Regions from separate parts of the Homo sapiens genome. Here all the other regions are linked to region 1. The links come from fine-mapping of genetic effects on gene expression. A gene starts in region 1. Each other region holds a variant in brackets. All regions are shown on one strand. Distances are from middle to middle.

Region 1 (5,462 bases):
CTAGTCGTGATGATGACCAAGCAGCTCACCAATCCAGATGTAGGGCAGCATTCATTGGCATGACCACCACCCCCACCATCAGACATCTTACTCAAGTGGCTCCCAGCCATCCACCAGGTTTCTGCTCTGGGCTGCCTGAGACCTATCAGCCCTGCCCCAACTCAACCACTGCTTCCCCTGGTTCATGATTCTCCTTCTGAAAGGAGCTCAGAAGTGATACCCTAATGACAGAAGGGAGCAGCAGTTGCTGCAGTAGCCAAAGCAGACTCCCCTTTGACGCCTGGCTATCTTGCCAATTGTCCCCTACTACATCAGAAACCATCAAACTGAACAACAGGGACAAATCCAAGATCATCCCAAACGTGACCCACCCAGGGATCTCACCTCCAGAATTCTATGACTAGGTGCAAAACAAACCGAAAAACCCCTGTACCTTCATACTCGACTCTCACATTTTAAGAAGAGGATCACTACATTAGGCATACAGTTATGAAGACAAAAATATTTCAGCCACAATCGTATTTCCATTATAATAACTATCGTGGCTCATGATAGAACTTTACAGCCCAAAGATATGATTAACATGACGATGCTGTTTCAAGTAAGCAGAGAAAATGATTTATTCCCACAAAGCAGTATGAGAATAAAAGAGTGATGAGTGCTCCGCAGTTAGCAGAAAGAAAAGGCACCCTCATTGTCTTTTGGATGGGAGACCTACTCTTCAGAAGTGAAACTAAGATTTGTTTTAAATGACCAAAAGGAGAGCTTGAGGAATAAATATACTGTACATTCCACCCTCACACCCCGGGGGGTGGGGCGGGGGGGAGGCAGTGGGGCAGCACACAGTGCCTTTCAGAGGGACAGGTGTTTGGAGGGGCTTCTGGGAACAGCCTGGCAGATGAGGTGTCAGACTAAGGAAAAAAAGGGCAAAGGGAAGGGGAAAGGGGTCCTTAGTCAGGCAGGGGTAGGTATAGAGGAGGAAGAGTTTTGTGGGGAGGGGAGATAAAAGAGTATTCACCACTGCCACTCCATTTCAGCTGGCAAAAAGTGTCAAGCCTGAGAGGAGTGAGGTGTGGGAAAGGCCCAGACAAGTGAAGCTGTACTTCCGAAGCTGATCAGGGACTGGCAGCAGGTATTCAGGAATCCAGGTCAAATGGGGGGAGGCGACTGGACATGAACTAAAATTGGGTGAGTTAGATTTCCCAGTACATGGGTACCAGAGACTAAGAGGAAGCCCTGTGCCTGTGTAGAGAAAAGTTAAGAACAGGAAAGAGGGTCCCCTGGAACCAGGATCGAGCAAGACGAAGGTATGGGGTGGGGAAGTCTGGATAGAGGCCAGGAAGACTGGGAAAAGACTGCAAATGGTCCCAGAGCAGGGGCAGGAGGCCTGGGGGTGGAGAAGCTGGAAGGAGCTGGGTGCCTGGACCATGAAGAGACAGAAGCAGTGAGTGGAACAGGGGACCCAGGAGGCAACATCCCAACAGACTGTGAGCAGCACTCAGGGAGTGAGTGCCTGGTCTTGAGGTGAGGCCAGGGCCTGACCAATCAGTTGCGGGTTAGGTGCTCCCCCGTCTGGGGGTCTGATGAAGCCCTCCTAAGGAGATCTCAGGAGGAGGAAGACCCCAAGGTCTGCGGATTCCTGGAACTGAGGAAGGGGCAGGAGGACATGTCTCAGGTCTGAGAGAATCTGACGTGGGCCCAGACATGGGGAGGGTCCCAAGTCTGGTGAAACCAATGGAGAGTTCTTCAGGGTCTGAAAAGGGCTGGTGGCAGTCCCTGATCTAGGGACGACAGGTCATGGGGAGGAAGGACCCAGGCCTTCTCCGAGTCATGAGGGGCTTCCGGATCCCAGACGGGCCGGTCACGGGCTTCAAGTCTGGGAGTGTTCGGGGTCCGCCAGGAGCCGGTCACGACGGGCTCTGGGTCCGAAGGGGCAGGTCAGGGCTGGGGCTCGGAGAGTGTGAGACACAGGCTGGGAAGGTCCCGGGTGGGAAGCGCCGGGTGCAGGAGGCCCCGGCGGCGAGGGCCTGTTCCGCGGCTGCGGGGTCGAGGAGCCGAAGCGGGCACGGCCCGTGAGCGCCGCGAGGAGGCCCTCGGGCCCCGGCCCGGCCCGGCGCTCACCTGCAGCACCACCTCTACGTCGTACGAGTTCCCCTTGCTCTTCTGGTGGCCGCGGAACTTGGAGCCGCTGTAGAGCAGGCTGGTGGCCACGCCGGGCTGCTGGGTGTTGATGGGCGGCGGCGGGATGAGTGAGGCCGCGGAGGCAGCGGAGGCACCGGCCGGCGGGGGACACTCGGTGCGGACCGGCATCGCGGGGTCCCCCGGAGCCAGGGCTGGGGGGAGTGGGAGAGGAACCGCCGCCGCCGCGCGGGAGCCGAGGAGGGTGGCGGGGAGGGAGAGGCCGGGGCGCGCACGCGCGGGGTGGGGGCGGGAGGGGCGACCACCCGCCCGCTGCCTGCGGAGCAAGCGCTCCGGCCGCCACCGGGACCCAGGGACCTGCGAGCAGGGCCTCCCAGTCCTGAGCTGGGTCCCCCTCCCGACTTGCCCTCGCGCACACATACACACACACAGACACTCACAGACACACAACACACAAACACACACAGACACACACACACCCCGCCCCTTCCGATTGGCTCAGGCGAGCCTGGGGGGCGGGAGCAGGCTCAGGCGGCGCTTCCGCCCATTGGCGGGAGGAGAAAACACGTGGCGCGGTGCGCGAGCGGCCCGCTGGGACTTGTAGTCTCCTCGCCGAGGCGCGGCGTGGAGGGGGCGGGGCGAGGTGCGTTTGTGATGCTGATTGACTGGGGGTGTGCGCAGGAGGCGCGCGGCGGCGACGGCGCGCCGTAGGTGTCATGCGGAAGATGGCGGCGTCCAAGGGAGGTTGAGGGCTCTGAGGAGGCGTTGAGAGGTTTCCGTACAGCCCGACCGTGCGGCTTTGGGGATCCCATCGCTCTGTGTTTCCTGCTCCAGGTTTCGCGTCTCGCATCTTCCCAGACCCTCGGGCGCGATGTGGAGGAGCTGCCTCCGGCTGCGGGACGGGGGACGCCGTCTCCTGAATCGGCCGGCGGGTGGCCCCAGCGCTTCTATGAGTCCGGGGCCAACCATCCCGTCTCCAGCCCGGGCTTACGCCCCGCCGACAGGTAAGACCATGACATGTTCTTTTGGGTTGGGGCCGAGCTGGGGTAAGGTGGGCTTCGGGCTTCGGCTGTGCAAAGCGAAGTAACTGAGGCAGGGTTCAGGCTCATGAGGTTATGCAGGCCAGTCAGGTCTTTTTACAGATGAGAAAGTGAAGCCCAGACAAGGGCAGACGACCCGAGAGGGAACAGCGAGTCACGCACGATACAGTAATTGATATTTGGCCTGTGCAGGTTTTCTCAAAGCTTATGGCTGCCCTCCCTTTAATAAGGAAAGCAGGTGTCATCTTTGTTTTCAAAAGGGGAAGTTTGGGCTCTGAATCAGGACTTCGTCTGGGTTACAGGCAGACTCTCTCAGAGGTTTGTGGTGTCTGTCTGACTGTTTTCCGTGTCTCCACTGCCCAACACAAGACCTGCCCAGAAGGGACCTAGAACCTGGGCCTTCATTCCTCCATCCCGGGCACTTCTGCTGCAGGTTTCCTGACTTTCCCTCCTACCACAACCTCTGCCATCTGCAGCCTTCTCTCCTAAATAGAAATTGACACCTCCACCTCTGACTGTGGAGTCACCTCCACCTCCAACTCTGATGAAGCTTAGAAGTAGTGGCTCTTTCATTGCTGATGGTGAGTGGTGTCAGGGTAAGAGTGAGAATGACTCATTTCAGTGAATGAAGAGCAGTAACACCCTCCCACCATTCAATTAGTTTTATTGTGCTGGAGGCAGGAGGCACGGTTGTCTTTAAGACCCACCTGTATGTATTGGTAGAGAAGCTCAATTAAAGAAGAAAAAGGCCCACCTGAATGATGTTCACTGTTCATTGCAAAAGGTTATAATATTCTGATTAAATTGTGGTTTATAATATCCTGATAAGGGACATACAAAGAAACTGTGAGAACACAGAGAATCGCTTACTCCCATCTTGGGGATGTTCAGGGTTTAGAATGGGTCTTGGGTGAAAGGGCGTTTGTTTAAGCTGAGCCATGATAGATGAGTAGGAGTTCAGCAAAAAGGTGGGAGAGTGTTGGGTATCTAGAACGTGTCCAGGGTGACAGCAAGGTATGAGGGACTTTTCCCTGACACTGCCTGTTTTAGAAAATCCAGAACTTCACAGGCAGTTTGGCATTGTGGCAGGAGTGCAAATCTAGGATCTGATGCTGGCTGAACCTCTGAGGTCTGTGTGATCTTGGGCATGCAACTACTTCCTCATTTTTCTCCATGCGTTGAAGTACTAGGTTGCCTTTGAGGATCTTTCTGGCTGTCAAGTTCTTTTTTTTTCTTCTTCTTCTGTTTTTTTGTGTTTTTTTGAGACGGAGTCTCCTCTGTCACAGAGGCTGGAGTGCAGTGGCACCATCTCGGCTCACTGCAACCTCCGCCTCCCAGATTCAAGCGATTTTGTGGTCTCAGCCTCCCAAGTAGGTGGGACTACAGGCGTCTGCCACCATGCCCTGCTAATTTTTGTATTTTTAGTAGAGATGGGGTTTATATTGACTAGGCTGGTCTCGAACTCCTGACTTTGTGACCCGCCCACCTCGGCCTCCCAAAGTGCTGGGATTACAGGCGTGAGCCACCGCGCCCAGCCAAGTTCTATAACTTTATAGAAATGGGGAAGGGGGCTGGATGCAGCAGGGAGCTGAAGTTTCACCTGCAGGACTCAGGGGAAGGGCCTGGAAATGGGCCATGAAGGGCCAGTAAAGAAGAGAAAGGAAGGGCATCCCAGGGAGGCATAGCAAAGGGGACACATTCAGGAGTTCACCAAGTTGGCAAAAAGCAAAGGGTTAATTAATTTATTTATTTACGTATTTATTTATTTATTTTGAGATGGAGTTTTACACTTGTCACCCAGGCTGGCATGCAATGGTGTGATCTTGGCTCACTGCAACCTCTACCTCCCAGATTCAAGCAATTCTCCTGCCTCAGCCTCCCAAGTAGCTGGGATTACAGGTGTCCGCCACCACACGTGGCTAATTTTGTATTTTTAGTAGAGATGGGGTTTCACCATGTTGGCCACACTGGTCATGAACTCCTGACCTCAGGTGATCCTCCCGCCTCAGCCTCCCAAATGCTGGGATTACAGGCGTGAGCCACCATGCCTGACCACAAAGGGTTAATTTAGATTTGTGGATGCTCACTTTACATAATGGTGGCACTTGATCTACTGCCTTCTTTTCCTTTTTAAAAAGCCTAAACTTACTAGTTAGGCTCTTGGAAGTACCTGGCACATGGTAGGTAGTCAAATGTGAAAGAAAATAGGAATGAATGAATGAGAAGGGAGGTGCATAAATCAGGCCCATGCATGCTTTTTTTTTTTTTTGAGACAGAGTCTTG
Region 2 (5,462 bases), 33 kb before region 1:
TCACTCACCTGTACTTGCAAAACCACAGGCCTCTTCCTACTCTGCACCTGCACCTGGGTTGGGAACATCCCCATGCTTGCTTGGGGCATGCTTGACTTCCGCATCCATCCACTCTTCCTCTCCTGGACAACCATCTCGTGCCTTCTTTCTCCTCAAAGGCCCAATACCTCTCCCCCTATCCTCATCCTCAGGAGGGTTGTCTACCTTGCTCTCAAGCTCACTAAGAACCATTGAAGAAATGAGACAAGAACTTCCACAAACTTCCAACTTGCCAGCATTGGCATGGCTGCTTGTTCCCAGAAACAAACTCTCAGTGCTTCTACCTGAGCCATCCCTGTCCTACAGCTTGAACTTTGCATTCTGCTGTGTCATTTTCAACAGCATACAAATATGCTGTCACACCTCCCTTCGGAAAAGTAAGCAAAACTCCTTCTCTTGCTGGTCTGAATTTTCTAGTTTTGTACAATGCATCCCTACTGTTTCTGAATTAATGGATGGTTTTTAAAAATATTTTTGATTCAACTTTTTTTTAAGCATAATTTACTTGCAATAAAACACACCATTCTCCAGTGCATAATTCAATGAGTTCTGACAAATGCATAGGGCGATGCAGCCACCCCCACATTTGACACACAGAACATCTCTATCACTCCAGAAACCACCACCCCCCCGCACTCAGTCCTCACCCCAACTCAGCCCCAGGCTGCCACCCATCTGCTTTCTATCACTACCAGTTAGACTCATCTTTTCTACAACTTCATCTGAACGGAATCACACAGCATATCGTCTTCTGTGTCTAGATTCCTCTGCTCAGCATAATGTTTCCAGATTCATCTGTGTTGTATCGCTATAGTACATTTCTTTTTATAAGAAATGCTGAGAGGTGTTTCATTATATAGCTGTACTATAATTTATAATAAATGGTTACCTAGAAATTCATTAAAATTTGGCAATGGTTCCTTGGATATGACACCAAAAGTACAGGCAACAAAATGAAAAAAAAAATAGATAAATGGGATTATATCAAAAAGAAAAACTTTTGCCAGGCGCGGTGGCTCACGCCTGTAATCCTAACACTTTGGGAGGCTGAGGTGGGCGGATCACGAGGTCAGGAGATCGAGACCGTCCTGGCTAACACGGTGAAACCCCGTCTCTACTAAAAATACAAAAAAAAAAAAAATTACCCAGGAGTGGTGGAGGGCGCCTGTAGTCCCAGCTACTGGGAGGCTGAAGCAGGAGAATGGTGTGAACCCAGGAGGCAGAGCTTGCAGTGAGCTGAGATAGCACTGCACTCCAGCCTGGGCGACCGAGCGAGACTCCGTCTCAAAAAAAAAAAAAAAAAAAAAAAAAACTTTTGTGCATCATTAAGGCACTATCAAGAGCATGAAGAGGCCGCCGGGCACGGTGGCTCGTGCCTGTAATCCCAGCACTTTGGGAGGCTGAGGTGGGCAAATTGCGAGATCAGGAGTTCGAGACCAGCCTGGCCAACATGGTGAAACCCCATCTCTACTAAAAATACAAAAAGTAGCTGGGCGTAGTGGCAGGCATCTGTAATCCCAGCTACTCGGGAGGGTGAAGCAAGAGAATCACTTGAACTTGAGAGGCAGAAGTTGCAGTGAGCCAAGATCGTGCCACTGCACTCCAGCCCGGGCGACAGAGTGAGACTCTGTCTCAAAAAAAAAAAAAAAAAAGAGATGGTAAAGAGACCCCACAGAATAATAGGAGAAAATATTTGCAAAGCATGTATCTGATAAGGAATTAATATCTAGAAAATATAGAGAACACCTACAATTCAGCAACAATGAAACAATGCACCTGATTTAAAAATGAGCAGGGGGCCGGGTGCAGTGGCTCACACCTGTAATCCCAGCACTTTGGGAGGCTGAGGTGGGCGAATTGCGAGATCAGGAGTTCAAGACCAGCCTGGCCAACATGGTGAAACCCCATCTCTACTAAAAATACAAAAATTAGCTTGGCGTTGTGGTGGGCACCTGTAATCCCAGCTACTCAGGAGGCTGAGGCAGGACAATCGCTTGAACCCAGGAGGTGCAGGTTGCAGTGAGTTAAGCTCACACCACTGTACTCCAGCCTGGGCGACACAGGAAGACTCTGTCTCAAAAAAAAAAAAAAAAGAAAGCAGAGATCCTGGGCAACGTAGTGAGACCCTGTCTCTACAAAAAAAAAAAAAAAAAAAAAAAAAAAAAAAAAGCAAAGGACTTGAATAGACATTTCTCCAAAGAAGATATACAAATGTTGAATAAACACTTGAGATGATTTCTCAGCATCACTAATCATTAGGTAAATGCAAATCAACATAGTGAGAGCCAGTCTCTACAAATATTTTGAAAAAAAATTAGCTGGGTGTGGTGGCGTGCATCTGTAGTCGCAGCTACTTGGGAGGCTGAGGAAGGAGAATTGCTTGAGCCCAGGAGGTCAAGGCCACAGTGAGTCATGATTATGGAGTGCAGAAATGCCACTGCACGGCCAGGCGCAGTGGATCATGCCTGTAATCCTAGCACTTTGGGAGGCCGAGGTGGGCAGATCACCTGTGGTCAGAAGTTCAAGACCAGCCTGGCCAACATCATGAAACCCCATCTCTACTAAAAATACAAAAATTAGCCAGGCATGGTGGCAGGTGCCTCTAATCCCAGCTACTCAGGAGGCTGAGGCAGGAGAATCGCTTGAACCTGGGAGGCGGAGGTTGCAGTGAGCCAAGATCGTGCCATTGCACTCCAGCCTGGGCAACAAGAGGAAAACTCTGTCTCAAAAAAAAAGAAAAAAGAAAAGCCACTGCACTCCAGTCTAGGTGACAGAATGATACC[A/G]TCTCAGAAAAACAACAACAAAAATCACAGTGACGTATCACTTCACACCCATTAGGATGGCCATTATAAAAATTTTAAGGCTGGGCACAGTGGCTCACGCCTGTAATCCCAGCACTTTGGGAGGCCGAGGTGGGCAGACCACGAGGTCAAGAGATTCAGACCAACCTGACCAACATGGTGAAACCCCATCTCTACTAAAAATACAAAAATTAGCTGGGCGTGGTGGCACGTGCCTTGTAGTCCCAGCTACTTGGGAGGCTGAGGCAGGAGAATCACTTGAACCCGGGAGGTGGAGGTTGCAGTGAGCCGAGATTGTGCCACTGCACTCCAGCCTGGCGACAGAGTGAGACTCTGTCTCAAGAAAAAAAAAAAAAATTTAAAAAGGAAAACAGGTGTTGGAGAGGATATGGAGAAAATGGAATCATTGTGTACTGCTGGAGAGAATGTAAAATGGTGCAGCCACTATGAGAAACAGTTTGGTGTTCCTCAAGAAGTTAAGCATAGAATTATATGATCTAGCAATTCCACTCCTTAGTTACAAACTCAAAATACTTGAAAGCAGGTACTCAAACAGATACTGACCACACAAACCAGTGTTCATAACAGCACAATGCATAATAGTCAAAAGGTAGAAACAGCCCAAATGTTCATCAACAGATGGATAAAATGTGTTATATACATACAATGGAGTATCAGCCATAGCATAGAAAGAAATTCTGACACATTCTACAAGTGAAAAAAACCAGTCACACAAAGATAAATACTATTATGATTTCATTTCTATGAGGGATCTAGACAAATTCATGGGGACAGAAAATAGAATGGTGGTTATCAGGACTAGGGGGAGGAATGGGGATTTAGATAGCGTTTACTGAGTCCAGAATTTCTTTAGGATGATGGAAAACTTCTGGAAACAGTGGTGATAGGAACACAATGTGAATGTACTTAATACTACTGAACTGTACACTTATGAGTGGTTAAAGTGGTAAATTTTATGTAATACACATTTTACCACAATAAACAAAGCCTCATTACATATAATTTGCAGAAAACCCCTCCCCCTGCAGAAATAACCAAACCAACAACCCATTTCTAGCCCACTCCCCTGACAGCTACTTCCTATTTATTTTCTTTCCTTATGCAGCACAACTCTGCAAGCTACTCACATCAAGCTAAAATAAGCGAGAGAGAGACTGACACTCCAAAACAAAAAGTTTATTTGAGAATAGCAAGGGGTTGCAATCTGGGGTATATGGTTGGGGAAAGGGGAATGAATCTTTTAGAGGTAAAAAGGAGAAGTCCGTGTAAGCTGTTTTAAGACAGAGAACATTGTTCACAGGGGCTTCTCACAGGCTCCAGTTCCCAGCTCCCTTGCAGTGTGGTGACTGTGTGAATGGCCAGAAGCCACACTTAGTCCACCAACACCACAAGCCTGAAAGCCTTTCTCTCATTTCAGGGCGGGAGGCTCACTTAGTTACGCTCAAAGCTTCCTGTGCGTTGGAGTCACCCGGGGAGCTTTAAAAACATCGACAGGTTGTGAGGACTGGTCTGCATGCTGCCTGACATTAAATCAGCTCCCATGTGCTTCTGAAGTGCAGCCAGGTTTCAGAAACACTGCTCCAGGTCAAGCCAGTGAGAAGGCATGAAGATGGAGGGGCTGTGGAGCGATTATGGAGAGAAACCATGACTAATGCATTGAAAAATGAAGCGAACTGAAAAATCAGAAGGAAAAAAATGGCAAAAATAAACTTGAATCCAGCATATGTTTCTCTACAAATGAAAAGCCTTACATGTTTTCCCTGCTATGTACAAATAGGGAGTTTCAATCTTTCGATGTTTTGGAAGAAAAATCTGGAGGGAAAAGCTGTTCAACTGCAATCCAACTTTGAGGCTTTTTTTTTTAATTTTTATTTTTAAATATATCAAAGCCTACTGCCTATTTCATTACTGAGCAATTTTAATGCTTCCCTTCCCAGGTGCAGTTCAGATGAGTGGAGATAGCACTTTTTTTGTTGTTGTTTTTTTTGAGATGGAGTCTTTGCACTATCGCCCAGGCTGGAGTGCAGTGGCGCTATCTCGGCTCACTGCAAGCTCCGCCTCCCGGGTTCACGCCATTCTCCTGCCTCGGTCTCCTGAGTAGCTGGGACTACAGGGGCCTGCCACCACGCCCAGCTAACTTTTTGTATTTTTAGTAGAGACGGGGTTTCACCGTGTTAGCCAGGATGAGTCTTGATCTCCTGACCTTGTGATCCGCCCACCTTGGCCTCCCAAAGTGCTGGAATTACAGGCGTGAGCCACCGCGCCCAGCCGACAGCATTCTTATAGTTTTCCTTTTGTCCTGTTTTGCAATTGGTTTCACACTTAAAATCTACACAATTTCTACTATTTCTACAGTTCCTATAGATGGCCTAAAAACAAAGCTAACTAAAGGTTATAAATTGGGGATCTAAGAATCGAGATATGAAAGAGAGTTGCTATAGCTGTTGTAGACATGTTTTATTCCTGCATCACCCTCAATACCTACAATGGTGCATGTGGCAAGGCTCAGTAGATACTTTTTATTTATTTATATTTTTTTGAGATGGAATCTCATTCTGCCACTCAGGCTGGAGTGCAGTGGCACGACCTTGGCTCACTGCA
Region 3 (5,462 bases), 120 kb after region 1:
TTTTTTCTCCAAGAGACAGAGTTTTACTCTGTCCCCCAGGCTAGAATACAGTGGTATGATCACAACTCACTGCGGCCTCGACATCCTGTGCTCAAGTGATCCTCTCACCTCAGCCTGTGGAGTAGCTGGGACTACAGGTGCGTGCCACTGAGCCCTGCTAATTTTTAAATTTTTGGTAGAGACAAGGTCTTGCTGTGTTACCCAGGCTGGTTTTGAATTCCTGGGCTCAAGTGGACTTCCTGCCTTGGCCTTCCAAAGTGCTGGGATTATGGGCATGAGGCACCACGACTAACCTATAGCCTATACCTAGCTTTTTTTTTTTTTTTTTGAGACAGGGTCTCACTGTGTCACCCAGGCTAGAGTACAGTGGCACCATCATAGCTTACTGCAGCCTCCATCTCCTGGGCTCAAGCGATCTTCCTACCTCAGCCTCCCAAGTAGCTGGGACTATAGGCATGCGTTACCACATCTGGCTAATTTTTTTTTTTTTTTTTTTTTTTGGTAGACACGAGGTGAGGTCGCTATGTTGGCCAGGCTGGTCTTGAACTCCTGAGCTCAAGAGATCCTCCCACCTCAGCGTGGCAAAGTGCTGGGATTAGAGGCATGAGCCACTGCGCCTGGGCTATACCTGGCTATTTTTGATGGAAGAATTAAATAACTGGCTTTTAGTTTTGGTCATTAGTTTGCCACTTTCTTTCTTAGTCTTTTGCTGTATAATATCCTCTTTCCTTCTTTTTGTAACAGTAATAACATAAAAAATTTTTAAAGTTTGCCTTTAAGCCAAATACTTCAACACACTGATTATTTTCACTTTTTCCCATTTATCTTCCAGGCATTATCCATATGCATGTTTTTTTAAAAATCAATTTTGTGTCTTTTTTTTCTTACATCATTACAAAATGTTTCTATATGGTTTTAAGAATTATTACTTATAATGGCTGTATTAGGTTGTTCTTGCATTGCCATAAAGAAATACCTGAGACTAGGTAATTTATAAAAGAGGTTTATTTGGCTCATGGTTTTGCAGGCTGTATAGGAAGCATAGTACTGGCAGCTGCTTCTGAGGAGGCTTCAGGAAGCTTTTACTCATGGCAGAAGGGGAAGGGAGAGCAGGCACCTCACATGGTGAAAACAGGAACAAAAAACAGAGAGAGAGAGTGGAGGAGGGAGTGCCACACACTTTTAACTGACCAGATATTGCAAGAATTATCACAAAGACATCATCAAGGCATGAAGGATCTGCCCACCAGGCCCTACCTCCAGCATTGGGAACTACAATTCAACATAAGATTTGGGTGGGGACAAATATCCAAACTATATCAATAGCTATATAATATTCAGTGGAATCAATATACTATATTTAATCATCACTTTTTTATTTTATATTTGAGAAGTTTTAAGAATTTTATTTTATTTTTGAGGCAGGGTCTCACTCTGTCCCTCAGGCTGGAGTGCAGTGATGTGATCACGGTTCGCTGCAGCCTCAGTCTTCCGTGCTGAAGCAATACTCCTATCTCAGCCTCTTGAGTAGCTGGGGACTACAGGCATGTACCACCATGCCTGGCTAATTTTGTATTTTTTGTAGAGGCAAGGTTTATGTTGCTCAGGCTGGTCTCAAACTCCTGGGCTTAAGTGATCCTCCTGCTTGAGCCACTGCACCCAGCTAAGGATTTTAAATAATACTACATTGAACACATTCCTAGTAGCTTTTCTCCCATTTTTCAACAGCTTTATTGAGATATAATTCATATGCCATACAATTCACCCATTTACAATGTACAAGTCAGTGGTTTTTAGTATAGTCACAGAGTTTTTTTTAAAAAACATTGTATTCACAGCGTTGTTCAGCCATTACCACAATCAGTTTTAGAACATTTTCATCATTCCGTACCCATTAGCAATCACTCCCCATTTCCCCCAGCCCTTCCAACCCCAGGCAATCACTAATCTATTTTCTGTCTCTATAGATTTGCCTATTCTGGACATTTTATATAAATGGAATCATACAATATGTAGTCATTTTTACCTTTGTTTTTGTTTTTGTTTGAGACAGAGTCTTGCTCTGTTGCCCATTCTGGAGTGCAGTGGCGCGATCTCGGCTCACTGCAACCTCTGCTCCTGGGTTCAAGTAATTCTCCTGCCTCAGCCTCCCGAGTAGCTGGGATTACAGGTGCATACCACCATGCCTGGCTAATTTTTGTATTTTTTTAGTGGAGACGGGGTTTCACCATGTTGGCCAGGCTGGTCTCAAACTCCTGACCTTATGATCTGCCCACCTCGACCTCCCAAAGTGCTGAGATTACAGGCGACAGCCACCGCGCCCGGCCTTTTTTTTTCTTTTTTAGACACAAGTTCTTGCTCTGTCTCTCAGACTGGAGTGTCTCCCAGCCTCCAGTTCCTGGGCTTAAGTGATCCTCTTGCCTCCCAAGTATCTTTTTTACCATTTTAAAGATGTGTATAACATAAAATCTACAATTTTAACTTTTTTCTTTTGAGATGGGGTCTCACCCTCTTGCCCAGGCTGGAGTGCAGTGGTGCGATCACGACTCACTGTAGCCTTGACCTCCTAGCCTCAAGTGATCCTCCTGCCTCAGGCTCTGGAGTAGGTGAAACTACAGATGCTCACCACTGCGCCCAGCTAATTAAAAAAAAATTTTTTTTTGTAGAGACAGGGTCTCCCTATGTTGCCCAGGCTTAAAAATACATGTTAATACAAGTGTTGAAGTTTTACCATGGGTGTTTGTTGTTGTTGTTGTTGTTGTTGTTTTGTTGTTGTTGTTTGAGATGGAGTTTCACTCTTGTCGCCCAGACTGGAATGCAGTGGCG[C/T]GATCTCGGCTCACTGCAACCTCCACCTCCCGGGTTCAAGTGATTCTCCTGCCTCAGCCTCCCAAATAGCTGGGATTACAGGCACCCACCACCACGCCTGGCTAATTTTTTTGTATGTTTAGTAGAGACCAGGATTTCATCAAGTTGGCCAGGCTGGTCTTGAACTCTTGATCTCAGGCGATCCGCCTGCCTTGGCCTTCCAAAGTGCTGGGATTACAGGCGTGAGCCACTGCGCCCAGCCAACACTGTGGCTTTAATGAGCACAGCAGGTATGAGCCCTGGGAAACTTCTGGGAGTCTTTCTCCTGGTGTGGAATTTTGTAATCACTCTTTGAGGCCTTTTTATAGCCTTGTTCCTGGTGATGCCTGCGGTCCCTGGTTGGCCTCACAGGCTAGTTGGTGCCTGGCCAACAGATTGCAGCCTTGTCCTGGTCCTCTCTGCTCACACTCCAGGAGGCAGTTAAGGTGGCCACTTCACTATTCCACCTGGAGGCTGCAATAAAAGCATTGGAGACAGTCACCCTCCCCTTCTGCTTCCCCGCTGGAATTCCGTCTTTCCTGAGATGCAGTCCACAGAATACACAAGTTAAGAATTGTGGTTCATATTTATTGCGCCCTCACTATGTTCCAGGTTCCCTGTTTCGTGTCTTATATCACTAACTTATTTGATCTTAACCACACCCTGTGAGGAGGTACAATTGTTTTGCCCGTTTTATGGATGAAATTCAGAGAGCGTGAGAAATGTGTCCTAGGTCAGAGAGAGCCAAGACTGACCCCCAGTCCCCAGATTCAAAGCCATGACCTTGACCAACATGCTGTCCTGTCTCCTTTTCTCACTGAGCAGTTGTGATAACCTGCCCCCTGCTTCCTGCCTGCAGTCTCTCCACTCCACTACAGCCCCCATGCTGTTACCAGAGCGATCTGTCTCAGACATAAATATTCTTGTCACTCCTGTTGAAAAGCCCCATGTTGCCTCCTGTGGAAAGCCCAGACTCCTTAGAGAAAATGAAAGGACACTCCAGAGCTGGCCTCCTCTCACCGCTCCCCTTCACCGAGGCCCTGGCCCTGGGAGGCTGTTTGCATAGCCTATGATGTTCCTCTCTCTTCAAATTCCTGCTCTTTCCTTGTACCAGGCCCATTTCTTAGCTTTCACAGTCCCCTCTGCTCCCCTGTTCAGCCTCAGGTCTGTGCCCTGTGTCCTGGATGGCTGGCTGCAGGTCTTTCCTGGGGAGTGCTTTCAGTGTAGGGGCTCCATCTTACTTCTTTCCATCCCAGTCTGGCAGGGAGAGGCCTCACAGTTGAAGTTTTTAAATTGAGCTGGGAAGTCTTTGGATAATCCTTCCCAAGGAGTGGCATTCACATCTCTGGGATGTGTCTCTGTCATCGGGAGAAGCTCAAAAAAAAGGCTGGTGACAGTGTGGCACACTGTGAAATTCTCAGGCACACCTCCTCTCTTCTCTGAGAGTGCTGGTGGTGAATGGTGGGCACGAGGGCGAGGGGAACAGCCCCTGGGAGGCGCTCTGGGGAAGAAGAAATTGGCAGCAAAGCAGACTGCACGAAGAGGCCGAGAGGAAGACAGGACAGGTGAATCCCACCCCCCCACCCCGCCCCCACTTTCCCTTATCTGCTCTGCTTTAAGCAGAAACTGTAACCTGATCACCAGGTCACAGAGAAACTTTGATCCTCCCAGCCACCCCCACCTGTCTGACATTAGAGCACAGCCTGCTAGGCTGGGACAAGCTGGCCACAGCCCCCTCTTCCCCAAAGCCTGGCACCATCTTGGGGCCTGGCTGGCTCCTGCAGAGGCCTTTCCTCCCCCATGGCCAATTTCCATCCTGGCCCTAAATTGGCCTCTTCCCCCAGCTACTCTCACACACTGACTCACACGTAAGTTATTCCATTAAGTACAAAGAACGGCATACATCAAATACCAGTGGCTCTGCTTCTAGAGAGCACACCCCAAATGCATTTTAAATCTGTGGATCCTCCTCAAGGGAATTCCAGTTAAAAAAGAACTTGGGTCAGCAGCCTCGGGCCTGTGTGGCTAACAAGCTTCTGTTTTCTCTGTTGTTTGGCTGGCCTGAAGGGTTCCTTTGTTTGGGGAGTGGGAGGATGTGGTGTCCTAATGAGGCCAGGGTGTGGAATTGGGGCTCACACAGAGCTGTCCTTTAGAACTGAGCTCTCCAGACAGGAGAATAAGTTGGGGAGTTTGAGAGTTTATTGGTCTTTAAAGAAAACAGAAGGTTTCAAAGAGAGGAAAACAAAATGCAGTGTGGTATTCTGGATCGGATCATGAGCAGAAAAAGGGCATTATTGGAAAAACTGGAGAAATCCAAATAACATCTGGAGTTCAGTTAATAGTACTATACCAATGTTAACTTTTTAGTTTTGGCCTGTGTGCAGTGGTTATGTAAGATGTGAACTGCCTGCAACGGTGGCTCACACCTGTAATCCCAGCACTTTGAAGGCTGAGGCGGGTGGATCACCTGAGGTCAGGAGTTTGAGACCAGCCTGGCCAACATGGTGAAACCCCCGTCTCTACTAAAAATACAAAAATTAGCTGGGCATGGTGGCGGGCGCCTGTAATCCCAGCTACTCAGGAGACTGAGGCAGGAGAATTGCTTGAACTCAGGAGGC
Region 4 (5,462 bases), 76 kb before region 1:
GGCCTAGGGTGGGATGGCCAAAGCCCACCAAGTCATCTTGGAGGAGAACTTTGAACCCTCTAGGTCCTAGGCAAGGGAGGAGGGGAATGGGCAGAGCAGGTGCTGGGCTGCGGTCAGTGTAACAGGAGCTGGCTGGCTCTCAGGAGCTGAATAATACATGGGGTGGGGAGCCAGGCTGCCGGCTCAGAAGGCAGGGCAAGGAGGGGCGTTTCAGTGGAACTCCACTTGTGTGTGTGTGTGTGTTGGGGCGGGGGCAGGGGTAGAGAGGCAGAAATGGAGGTTGGGTCAGGCCTGGCTCAGACCCTAGGCTCTGTCACTGACTGGCTGTGTGGGTCCAGGAAAGTCCTTGTCCTCTCTGGGCCTCAGTTTCCTCTGAAGAATGGGAGTGATAAGCTATGCCCCATCTCCTTCACCAAAAGGAAGCAAGACCTGATGGAGCTGCTGGGTAACTGGAGATGCCTCCTGCTGGCTCCTTTCTGGGGTCCCTGCCTAGCCCTGTCCTCTCCTCTTACTTTCTGCCCTGGCTGAGTAGGCTGTGGCCATGTGGTTACTGCCTTCTCTGGGCATAGCTGATTGCTTCATATGGCCTGACCTAAGGCTGCATGTCCAAAGTCTGGTTGGTGGCCAGTCTAACTCACTTTTGAGAACCTGCACTAAAAGAGGTAGGGGGTGGGAAAAACTGGGCAGGCCAGCGGAGGTGGGGAGTGGCAGCTCTGAGACCTGAAGCCTCAGAACCAGCTCTCCTCCTCCTCTTCCTCCTCAAGATGGACCTCAACTCACTGAACTCTGGTTCACTCTTTTGGTCCCAGAGCTAATTCTTTGGTTGTTTAAGGTTTAGCATAGGAGACCCCAAAGCAGCAAGGTTCTGGCCCTGGTTCTGCCACTTGCCAGCTCCACGCCCTCAGATCAGTGGCTTCAGAGCCTCAACGTGCTCAGCTGTGAAACAGGGACAGGGTGAGGCCTTCCCAGGTAAGTGGCAGGAGCAGAGAGGGGACCATGCAGCAAGTGAGGTCTCCCCCTCTCTGTCTGCCTCTTCCCCCTGCTCACTTTCTCTGGCTCTTCACTTTCCTCTTCTTCCTGCTCCTCCTCCCCAAGATTCACCTGGAGCCAGTCAGTGCCCAGCCACTCAGAGGAGTTGCACCAGGGGCTGTTGGTGCCTGGTGCAGGCAGTCTCACAGGGATGGGGAGTGGGGCTTGATGGAAACCAGAGAAATTGGATGGAGGGCTTTTGGAGCGAGTTAGGGGATACGTGCAGGAAGTGGGCCTCCTGCACAGCAGGAGTTTGAGGGGCTGCCCACTCTCCCTTCTGTTTTTGGGCAGTGGCTCTTGCCCGCTTGAGGAAAAATGAAGGACAGGGGCAATGTTCTTTCTTTCTTTCTTTTTTTTTTTTTGAGACAGAGTCTCGCTCTGTTGCCCAGGCTGGAGGGCAGTGGTGCAATCTCGGCTCACTGCAACCTCCGCCTCCCGGGTTCAAGCAATTCTTGTGCCTCAGTCTCCCAAATATCTTGGATTACAGGCATGTGCCACCACGCCTGGCCAATTTTTGTATTTTTAGTAGAGACGGTTTTTACCATGTTGGCCGGGATGGTCTCAAACTCCTGATCTCAGGTGATCCACCAACCTTGGCCTCCCAAAGTGCTGACATTACAGATGTGAGCCACGGCGCCCAGCCGAGACATTCTTTCTGAGCCTGGAGATATCAACAACTGCCCCAGCTCCTCTTGGAGCCAGTTTCCAAAGTGAGGCCCCAGTCAGGTGTGTTGCACAGTGGTCTCATGGGACTCTCACAGCAGGTCTGTGAGATATGAGCTATTAGTATATCCATTCTCCGGATGAGGAAACTCAGACTCAAAAGATGAAGGGACTTGCTCGAGGCCACCTGGCTTGGGAAGGTAGAACCCAGGCCTGGCCGAGTCCAGAGCTACCTCCCTTACTAGGCCCTCCTGCCCGCTGAGCTCCTGGGTCATCACTGGGTTTAGAGTGGCTTAGGACACTGGGCAGAGCCAGGAGCATAGTCGTGCTAACCCCACAACCTGCTCCTGCCTGGAGGGGGAGGGCCCTGACCAAGCCACTGGGCAAACCAGAGCCCAGCTGGGCCTCCAACAGGCACCAAGGCCTCTCCAGTGCTTGCCCACCGCTACCCCAACCTGGATTCCTCAGTCAGCCTGGCCCCTTTCCCTAAGGGTCCTGAGCCAGCATTTACTCACTCACCCATTCATTCAAAAGCCTCTGTGGGAAGTGTGCTGCATGCTAGGCACCGTCTAAGTGCTGGGACACAGCTGTGAACAAAACAGAGAAAAACCCTGCCCTCATGCAGTTACCATATGTGGGTGGAGAGAAAGCCAATAAACATGGAAAATCAGTAACAGATAATGGGGCGTAAGTGCCGTGGAAGGGACAGCAAGAAGTGGGGTTGTGACATTAAACAGGAAGTCAGGGAAGGCCTAGTGGCTATGGGGCCATGGAGAGAGCCTGTGGGCAGTGCACAGTCCCAAGCAGGTGGAGGAGCAGACAGGCCAGGTGGCTGGAGGGCAGTGGGGGTGCACTGGGTGGTGAGGTCAGAGTTCAGGGGCACATGTGCAGGGCCTGTGGGCCACAATGAGGGCTTGGCTTCGACTGCCAGTGAGGCAGGAGCCGTGGGAGGAGGGTTTTGGCAGAGAAGGGATGGAATTCGACCTCAGTCTTTTTTTTTTGAGACAGAGTCTCGCTGTGCTGCTCAGGCTGGAGTGCGATGGTGCGATCTTGGCTCACGGCAACCTCTGCCTCCCAGGTTTAAGCAATTCTCCTGCCTCAGCTTCCCAAGAAACTGGGATTACAGACACACACCGCCACGCCCAGCTAATTTTGTATTTTTAGTAGAGACAGGGTTTCACCATGTTGGCCAGGCTGGTTTCGAACTCCTGACCTCAGGTGATCTGCCTGCCTCGACCTCCCAAAGTGTTGGGATTACATCCGTGAGCCACCAAGCCTAGCCTCGACCTCAGTCTTGATAGCAGCCTCTACTGCTATGGGAGAAGCGGCTGCAGGAGTGA[G/A]GGTGAAGGCAGGGAGGCCAGCATGGAAGCTTCTATGGAGGTCCTCCTGCACCAGGCTGCCAGCGGTTAAAGTGTGGAGAAGTGGTAGGATGCTGGGGACATGTGGCAGGTAGGACTGACAGGATTTGATGATGGGGATGAGGCAGGGTGCAGGAATGGCTCCCAAGTTTCCTTACTGAACATCAGGGAGAATGGAGAGGCCGTCAGGTCATTGGCCAGGATGAGGAAGGCTGCAGACAGAGCAAATTGAGGAAGTAGGGCCCAGGATCCAGCTTTGGGCACTGGGCACTGCTGGGGGGCCATCACAGCCACCAGGGCTGGTGACATCAGTTAGGGAGTCATTGGCATCTAGATGGCATTGAAGCCACAGCTCTGGAGGATGACACCAGGGAATGAGTATAGAGGGAAGAGAGGCCACGGAATGAGCCGCAGGGCTGCAGTGCTTAGGAGCCAAGGAGGCAGTGAGTGAGCACCACGAAGCCAGCCAGAGGAGGAGGTAGAGGCCCAGGAGGGAGTGGGGTCCTGGGGGCTGCACAGGAGGGCGGGACTGCTATGACAGATGGGACCGCTATGACAGATGAGCATGTTAGTCAAGAATGGAGAGCTGACTAATGGATGCAGCTCCTTAGAGCTCCAGGGGTGACTGTGACAAGAATGGTCCCAGTACAGTAGCAGGGGCAAGGGAAGTTACACCTGATGGAAGAGGTTTCAAGAAAGACAGGACCAGGGCCAGGTGCAGTGGCTCATGCCTGTAATCCCAGCACTCTGGGAGGCCAAGGCAGGTGGATCATATGTGGTCAAGAGTTCGAGACCAGCCTGACCAACATGGTAAAACCTCATTTCCACTAAAAATACAAAAATTAGCTGGGCGTGGTGGCGCATGCCTGTAATTGCAGCTACTCAGGAGGCTGAGGCAGGAGAATCACTTGAACCTGGGAGGCAGAGGTTGCAGTGAGCCAAGATGAAGCCATTGCACTCCAGCCTGGGCAACAAGAGCAAAAACTCCGTCTCAAAAAAAAAAAAAAAAAAAAAAAAAAGACAGGACTGTGGTGGTCACAAGGTGGGCACACTTGTGAGCATACTAAAACCACAGCATTGTACACTTTGATGGGTGAATTGTATGGAGTGCGGATTATATATTGATTGTTTTAAAAAAGAAAAAGGACAAGAGGGAGGGAAGGAAGGAAGGATGCAAGTAATCCACCCCTGGGGATCTCTCTTACACGTCCTTATGGGTAAGGACACACAAACAGAGCTGCTCATTGCTGCAGTACACCACAATGCATTCCAGGATGGAACACAACACAGCTATAACAAGGAATGTGGACGATCTCTGTGTCCTGATAGGGAGCGATCTCCAGGACCTGCTAGTGCAGGAAGCAGGCTGCAGATCAGCCTGTTGACTACAGTGTTTACTGAGGCCTTTCTGTAGGAAGAGTGTGTGTGTGTGTGTGTGTGTGTGTGTGTGTGTGTGTGTGTGTCAGGGGAGGTGCTAAGAATATAAGTTTGTATTCTTATGTTTGCCTTTTTTTTTTTTTTGAGACAGTCTCACTCCGTCAACCGGGCTGGAGAGCAGTGATGCGATCTCAGCTCACTGCAACCTCCACCTCCTAGGCCTCAGCTTCCTGAGTAGCTGGAATTACAGGCATGCACCACCATGCCTGACTAATTTTTGTATTTTTAGTAGGGACAGGGTTTTGCCATGTTGGCCGGGCTGGTCTTGAACTCCTGGCCTCAAGTGATCTGCCCACCTCATCCTCCCAAAGTGCTGGGATTATAGGCATGAGCCACTGAGCCACCATGCTCAGCTTGTGTTTGCTTTTTTATTTCCATATTAGAAATACTGCAGCCAGGAGCAGTGGCTCATGCCTGGGCACTTTGAAAAGCTGAGATGGGAGGAGCCCAGGAGTTTGAAACTAGCCCAGGCAATATAACGAGACCCTGTCCCTAGATAACAAACCGAAAAATTACAGGTGGCAAGCACCTGTAGGCCCAGCTACTCAGGAGGCTGAAGTGGGAGGATCGCTTGAGCCAGGATTTTGAGGCTGCAGTGAGTTGTGATCATGCCACTGCACTCCAGCCTCTGACACAGAGCAAGACTCTGTGTCAAAACAAACAAAAGAAATACAGCGCCAGGTGTGGTGGCTCACACCTGTAATCCTAGCACTTTGAGAGGCCAAGGTAGGCTGATTACCTGAGCTCAGGAGTTCGAGACCAGCCTGGGCAACACGGTGAAACCCCATCTCTACTAAAATACAAAAAAATTAGCTGGGTGTAGCAGCGTGTGCCTGTAGTCCTAGCTACTTGGGAGGCTGAGGCAGGAGAATTTCTTGAACCCGGGAGGCAGAGGTTGCAGTGAGCTGAGATCATGCTACTGCACTCCGGTCCAGGTGACAGAGTGAGACTCCGTTTCAAAAAAAAATAATAATA

Which allele goes with the higher level. Alleles are on the strand shown, and positions count from the first base shown. SD is a standard deviation of normalised expression in the study named. Not every link is listed here.
For the expression in transverse colon of the gene that starts at base 2,856 in region 1, G is the high allele of the variant in region 2 and A is the other (moderate effect, 0.46 SD a copy in GTEx).
With allele A in place of G in region 4, the expression in breast of the gene that starts at base 2,856 in region 1 is lower (moderate effect, 0.53 SD a copy in GTEx).

What was found. PIP is the estimated chance that this variant, and not a neighbour inherited with it, causes the effect.
Region 2: its variant is the best candidate, but not a certain one, in a credible set for the expression of ATPAF2 in transverse colon (GTEx, PIP 0.73).
Region 3: its variant is the best candidate, but not a certain one, in a credible set for the expression of ATPAF2 in nasal epithelium (TOPMed, PIP 0.60).
Region 4: its variant is the best candidate, but not a certain one, in a credible set for the expression of ATPAF2 in breast (GTEx, PIP 0.55).

Annotation. Positions count from the first base shown.
Region 1 is chr17:18,036,562-18,042,023 of GRCh38, reverse strand. It overlaps ATPAF2 (ATP synthase mitochondrial F1 complex assembly factor 2), which reads left to right and starts at 2,856. Exons shown (of 8, transcript NM_145691.4): 1 at 2,856-3,143. The coding sequence starts at 3,011. GID4 (GID complex subunit 4 homolog) reads right to left here and starts at 2,616. Exons shown (of 6, transcript NM_024052.5): 1 at 2,122-2,616. The coding sequence starts at 2,559. RefSeq lists enhancers at 1,608-1,667, 2,818-2,927, 3,068-3,117, 3,128-3,197 and silencers at 2,018-2,607, 2,618-2,707.
Region 2 is chr17:18,069,963-18,075,424 of GRCh38, reverse strand. No RefSeq gene overlaps it. Among named protein-coding and RNA genes, the nearest start is that of DRG2, 15 kb to the left of the region's middle. The variant A/G (reference allele first, on the strand shown) is at 2,823.
Region 3 is chr17:17,920,721-17,926,182 of GRCh38, reverse strand. All of the region lies in intron 1 of TOM1L2 (target of myb1 like 2 membrane trafficking protein), which reads left to right. Among named protein-coding and RNA genes, the nearest start is that of TOM1L2, 49 kb to the left of the region's middle. RefSeq lists enhancers at 2,640-3,172, 3,173-3,706, 3,707-4,240, 4,775-5,308, 5,309-5,462 and a silencer at 4,334-4,628. The variant C/T (reference allele first, on the strand shown) is at 2,827.
Region 4 is chr17:18,112,849-18,118,310 of GRCh38, reverse strand. The region is part of intron 1 of MYO15A (myosin XVA); the gene reads right to left. LOC105371566 (a long non-coding RNA gene) reads left to right here and starts at 750. Exons shown (of 3, transcript NR_164159.1): 1 at 750-969. The variant G/A (reference allele first, on the strand shown) is at 3,033.